Linked DNA regions of Homo sapiens: region 1 is reported to be linked to region 2. The links are microRNA targets in miRTarBase. Many come from high-throughput screens and were not tested one by one. Region 2 holds a microRNA gene; the other region holds the end of a gene's coding sequence.
The links. The annotated mature microRNA hsa-miR-1288-5p reads GCAGAUCAGGACUGUAACUCACC and lies in region 2 at 2,314-2,336, opposite strand. An mRNA with a match to its seed (bases 2 to 7 or 8) in the 3' UTR can be bound and repressed. Matches are read on the target gene's strand: a 7mer-m8 pairs with bases 2 to 8, a 7mer-A1 pairs with bases 2 to 7 and ends in A, and an 8mer does both.

Region 1: miRTarBase lists ZNF490 as a target of hsa-miR-1288-5p. Seed matches in the 3' UTR shown: 7mer-m8 at 864-870.

Annotation. Positions count from the first base shown.
Region 1 is chr19:12,577,752-12,580,751 of GRCh38, reverse strand. It overlaps ZNF490 (zinc finger protein 490), which reads left to right. Exons shown (of 5, transcript NM_020714.3): 5 at 1-3,000. The coding sequence ends at 267. Among named protein-coding and RNA genes, the nearest start is that of LINC02926, 28 kb to the right of the region's middle. RefSeq lists an enhancer at 1-828.
Region 2 is chr17:16,280,976-16,284,363 of GRCh38, reverse strand. It overlaps MIR1288 (microRNA 1288), which reads right to left and starts at 2,350; the gene lies at 2,276-2,350. The region is part of intron 2 of PIGL (phosphatidylinositol glycan anchor biosynthesis class L); the gene reads right to left.

The sequences.
Region 1 (3,000 bases), not on the chromosome of region 2:
AGAGAGAAACCCTATGAATGCAAACAGTGTGGTCGGGTCTTCATTTACTTCAGTCACCTTCGAAGGCACGAAAGAAGTCACACTGGAGTGAAACCATGTGAGTGTAAGCAGTGTGGCAAAGCTTTCACTTGTTTAAATTCCCTGAAAGTACACAAAAGAATTCATACTGGAGAAAGACCCTTTCAGTGTAGACAATGTGGTAAAGCCTTCAGTTACTCAAAGTCTTTGCACGTGCACGAAAGGACTCATAGTAGACAGAAGCCCTAAGAAAGTAAAGTGTGGTAATGCTGTCAGTTGTATTAGTTCCTTTTGGATGTATGAGAGTACTTACGCTGGAGAGAAATTCAAGGAATGTAAACGGTGTGATTAAGCCTTCAGTTGTCCTAATTCCCTTTGAAGACGTGACTCATGCGGCAATGAAATATTTAACAAATGGGGGAGGAACTTGCACTCTCCTGCGGGATTGCAGATATGTGAATGGACTCCATGGACAGAAAAGCTACGAATGTATGGAGTGTAGGAAAGCCTTCACTTCACGTAATCTTTTAAAGACACCTGAGAATATATACTGGAGAGAAACTATAAAGAAAATTCTATATCCATCCCATCTTTTGTGGGGTTTGTTTTTTGTTTTTGTTTTTGTTGAGATGTAATTTTGCTCTTGTTGCCCAGGCTGGAGTGCAGTGGTGCGATCGCGGCTCACCGCAACCTCCGCCTCCCGGATTCAAGCAATTCTCCTGCCGCAGCCTCCCAAGAAGCTGGGATTACAGGCATGCGCCACCACGCCTGGCTAATTTTGTAATTTTAGTAGAGATGGGGTTTCTCCATGTTGGTCAGGCTGGTCTCAAACTCCTGACCTCAGGTGATCTGCCTGCCTCGGCCTCCCAAAGTGCTGGGATTACAGGTGTGAGCCACAGCACCCAACCTTTTTTTCCCCGCCGCACCCCAAGATGGTGTCTCACTCTGTTGCCCCAGGCTGGAGTGCAGTGGTGTGATCCTGGCTCACTGTAACCTCTGGGTTCAAGCAATTCTTCTGCCTCAGCCTTCCAAGTAGCTGGGATTACAAGTGCCCACCACCATGCCCAGCTAATTTTTATATTTTTAGTAGAGACAGTGTTTCACCATGTTGACCAGGCTGATCTTAAACTCTTGACCTCAAATGATCCACCCACCTTGGCCTCCCAAATTGTTCGTTTTACTTTTTTTTTTTTTTTTTTTTGAGCTGGAGTCTTACTCTGTTGCCTAGGCTGGAGTGAAAGTGGCGCAACCTCTGCCTCCCAGGTCAAAGCAATCCTGCCTCAGGCCCCCTAGTAGCTGGCATTACAGGCACATGCCACCACGCCCAACTAATTTTTATATTTTTAGTAGAGACGGGGTTTCACCATGTTGGCCAGGCTGGTCTTGAACTCCTGACCTCAGGTAATCCACCTGCCTTGGCCTCCCAAAGTGCTGGGATTACAGGCGTGAGCCACCACACCCGGCCCCCAGTTCTTTTTTTTTTTTTTTGAGACGGAGTCCTTGCCCAGGCTGGAGTGCAGTGGCGCGATCTCAGCTCACTGCAAGCTCCGCCTCCTGGGTTCACGCCATTCTCCTGCCTCAGCCTCCCGAGTAGCTGGGACTACAGGCGCCCGCCACCACGCCCGGCTCATTTTTTGTATTTTTAGTGGAGACGGGGTTTCACCGTGTTAGCCAGGATAGTCTTGATCTCCTGACCTCGTGATCCGCCCTCCTCGGCCTCCCAAAGTGCTGGGATTATAGGCGTGAGCCACCGCGCCCGGCCTCCAGTTCATTTTAAAACCATGAAACCACCCACACTGGAGAGCCACCTTCTTAAATGTAAGCAATATGGGAACATCTTCAATGACATCTGCAACCATTGTCGAGATTCTTCGTAGGAAGAATTAAAGGAATGGGGAAGAAGGACTTGGGCCCCAGCAGGCCTTTTGTGGCATCCAGTCAGAAGTTAGGAAACACCCTCTAGGGCAGTGCCTGCCCTCAGCTCTCACACATGACTGGAGAGAAGTGAGAAGACTCCCAGAATCTGCCTTTTAAGTTTCCATCAGTGTCCTCGGGTCAGACTGTGGGAATGCTGTACTTCTAAGACAAAGGTTCGCATCTTACAGTTTTTCCCCAAGTGGGATCTGCCTATGCACATCCTAATTCACAGACATTGTCAGCATTGCATTATTCCAGGGCTGTTTTGAGGTCATCTCCAGCTCCATTTCCCATCTCAAACCTACACTTTGGACACTTGTTTAAACATTCACATCTGAATTTCTCTGTGGCAACCGCAGGTGGCTCTGAGGTGAGAGACTGAAGAAGCAGAGCCTGTATCATGGGACACACACCCCTTGACCACACAGCATCCACTCTCCTGCGGTTACCAGCCCTGCACCAACCACCACAGTCAGAATAATCTCAAAACTGCTAGTGGAGTCACAGACACACTCTGCCATGTCTTAGCTGTAGGACACTCAGAATTCTTACCTCCCCTAACTTGCTTTCCCTGTTTTCTGGCACATTCTACCCTGAGATATTCAGCGGCATATGCACTGATGATGCTCCGGCCTTCTCACGTCAGTGCATGTCACATGCATCCTGCTCCAGGACTGGTTTCCTAGCCTCCCGCTAAGACTAGCACTTAGCTCTTCTTGGAAAAGGACCCACCCTGCAGCGCTCCAGCTCTGTTGTGTATGGGAGGTGCTGGTGTCAGGGTTCACAAGCCATGGAACTACCTTGCTTCACATCACAAGGCAAGGTGAACTCAACTCCCAATAAACTGCTTGCTGGAGCCTCCGAATTCTCCGTTTTCTGAATTGCATAGGCACGATAGGGGTCGGGTCTGTCCTTTGTTGGAGTCAGTCCCCCCTTTTCTTAGCAAGTCAGTGTGTTTTAGAAGGGAGGTGGCAGCATTGAGGGAAACCAGGTCACCATCCACCCTCGTAACAACAGTCTCCCTGGGTGGGTCCCAGAAGTGATCTTTGTGTCGCTCGGGTCGGA
Region 2 (3,388 bases):
GTGGCTCACATCTGTAATCCCAGCACTTTGGGAGGTGGAGGAGAATGGATTTCCCGGCCTTGAACCTGTTTATAAAAGCAACTTTCGGGCTAGGCGCAGTGGCTGATGCCTGTAATCCCAGCACTTTGGGAGGCCAAGGCGGGTAGATCACCTGAGGTCAGGAGTTCAAGACCAGCCTGGCCAACATGGTGAGACTACGTCTCTACTAAAAATGCAAAAAATTACCTGGGTGTGGTGGCGGGCGCCTGTAATCCCGGCTACTCAGGAGGCTGAGGCAGGAGAATCGCTTGAACCTGGGAAGCGGAGGTTGCAGTGAGCCGAGATCGCACCGTTGCACTCCAACCTGGGCAACAAGAGTGAAACTCCGTCTCAAAACAAAAAAAAAGAAAGAAAAGCAGCTTTCATGAGCAATATCCTGGTGGCCACCCAAGTTCATGATGAGGCAGATGCGGGATGTATTTCCCTCTCTATGAGGCAATGCTGACAGACCAGGAAGGGAACTATGAGATAAGGCTTTAAGCTTGATCGATGGATTCTGATTGAAGTTAAGTGGGTTCTTACTCATATTCAACAGCATTAATAGTAATTGCTAACTCCTTAATAATTCAATAAGAGCTTTTGTATAATCGGTGATTTAAAAAGTTTTACAAAATCTTCACACTATTCAATTGTTTAATATAGATTAACATCTCTCTCTTATTTTTTTTAAGAGACAGGGTCTCAGTCTGTTGCTTAGGCTGACCTTGAACTCCAGGTCTCAGATGATCCTCCCACCTCACCCTCCCAAAGTGCTCAGATTACAGGTGTGAGCCACGGCACCTGGCCAGATTAACACCTCTTCTAAGAGCAGTGAGTCTTGAATGAGCATGGCTCCTCAGAAATATCTTTTTTTTTTTGAAATAGGGTCTTGCTCTGTCATCCAGGCTGGAGTGCAGTGGTGCAAACACAGCTCACTGCAGCCTCAACCTCCTAGGATCAGGCAATCCTCCTTCCTCAGCCTCTTGAGTAGCTGGGACTACAGGCATGCACAACCACGGCCAGCTAATTAAAACAATTGTTTTGGCCAGGCACAGTGGCTCACGCCTGTAATCCCAGCACTTTGGGAGGCTGAGACTGGCAGATCACCTGAGGTCAGAAGTTAGACACCATCCTGGCCAACATGGTGAAATCCCACCTCTACTAAAAATACAAAAATTAGCTGGGCATGGTGATGTGTGACTGTAATCCCAGCTACTCGGGAGGCTGAGGCAGGAGAATCGCTTAAACCCAGGAGGCAGAAGTTGCAGTGAGCCAAGATCATGCCATTGCACTCCAACCTGGGCAACAGAGTGAGAATCTGTCTAAAAAAAAAAAAAAATTCTTTTTTGGTAGACATGGGGTCTCGCCATGTTGCCCAGGCTGGTCTTGTACTCCTGGGCTCAAGTGATGCTCCCGCTTCAGCTTCCCAAAGTGCTGGGATTGAGCCACTGCACCTGGCCAGAGATATCTTTTGAAGTAGACATTGCTTACTATTACTGGCTGCTGGACCCATAATAGGGGCTGAGTCCTATGACCAGCCTGGACATCTTTCCCAGCTTCTTGAGAGGTGCCAACATCACATCAGGATATATGTATGAGCTGCATTCTGCACTGACTCTTTCACCAACTTAATGAGCACTCTGGATTCCTTGAGATCATTCTTAAAAAGAGTTTGAGGAGGATACCTTCCTTCCACATGACTAATGCTGATTCATTAACCAGAGAATGCAGGAGTTAGAAGGGACTTTAGGAACCATCTAAGTAGTCCTGTTAGCCTCAGAAAGAGTAATTCTAGGGATATTTTGTGAAATCAACACTGACTATGTTTGGGAGGTAAAATGATTCCTTTGTCAAGGTGTTTGGGTATGGGTGTTTAGGGTATGTAAAATTAGATATTTTACATAATAGTAGTAACTAGACTGGTGAAAAAAAAACAGACCAATTATTTACCTCTAATTCAGCATTCCATTGTGCTATCTCTCTCCTATAACTTAGGCTTTTCTAAGTTGTAAAGAACAAGGATATGGAGTCTTTCTACCTCCCTCGTGCATGTTCACTCTGAGATGCTGGCTATGGTGGGCAAGAAGGAGGATAAGCCAAGGGATGCCCAGCCATTCCTCTCACACCCAGAAAAAGGGAGGGCTTTCAGGGGACTGTGGGCAGGCAAAGCTGAAGGAAATTTGGGATATGTGCTAATTCCCAGGAAGACCCTGTCTGGTGATGCTCAGATAGCTTCTGTAGGGTGAATTATTCTCGAAAGGCAGTGGTCTCCAGATCAGGGCAGTCCACCACTATGGTGAGTTACAGTCCTGATCTGCTGATCAACACCCTCTTAGCAGTGCCCCCATGGACAGCTGTCGCCCCCCTTCCATTGTCTGGGGGCAATAGCAGAATGTCTGAGGATGGGTCTTACAGGTTGCATTGCTCTTGCTCCCCTTTGGCTTGCCTGCTTCATGTCAGATGGGAGCTGTACCAGTGGGCACCCCACCTGTGTACCAGAGCTCCTGCTTCTGCAGGAGACTGAGGCCAGTATTTCCTCCTTGTCATGGAAGATTCTATCACAGGTCCCCTTCTTCTTTCTCCTTTAGCCAGTCTCATAAAAATTTGCCAATATCAGTATCCAATTCCTTCTAAAATTAATATTTCTTAGATGTAGGCAAGGAACTAAGCATTAAATATTGCAGCAGAAAATATACACGCCTACCAGGCTAGGGATTTATAGGGAAAATATACAAGAGAGATCCAAATCACTTCAAAATTATTTCCAAGTGGGTTGATGCTATTTGATGTGGTTACTTAAGAATGTAGACAAAAGATACACTTGCAGTGCTGGCCAGAAGATAGCCTTAGTTATTATGAATGTTGCATCTGGCTTTGCAAAGAGCAAATGCCTAGACACATTCTCAGGGATGGGATGGGATTTGTTAAACAATCTCTTGCATCCAGTCTCTGAAACATAAAAGCCGTTGATATTCTTTTAGAGCAGGTAAAAAATGCTTGGACTTTTCTTAGAAAAGGGAGAACATTCCTAGAATTAGCATCTAAAACATGTCAAAATTTAGCTTGCAAAAATGAGTTCAAAATGAACTACTGTTCTACAGCAATGTTTTCCAATTGAGGTCCACAAATCCCTGAGAGTCTGTGGCTAAATTCTCAGGGGTCCATGCATTCCTAGAAAAATTTTTTACTTAAATAATAATCTGAAACATTTCATGATTATTTCCTTGAAAACTTCAAATGAATGTATGTTCATGTGATTTTAGTGCTTATATTTATACATGTGAAAGCACAAGAGTCTTCTCAAAGTAAGTGAGATTTTTTTTCCTTTTAAAAACACCTAGTGAGCCAGGCATGGTGGCTCATGCCTGTA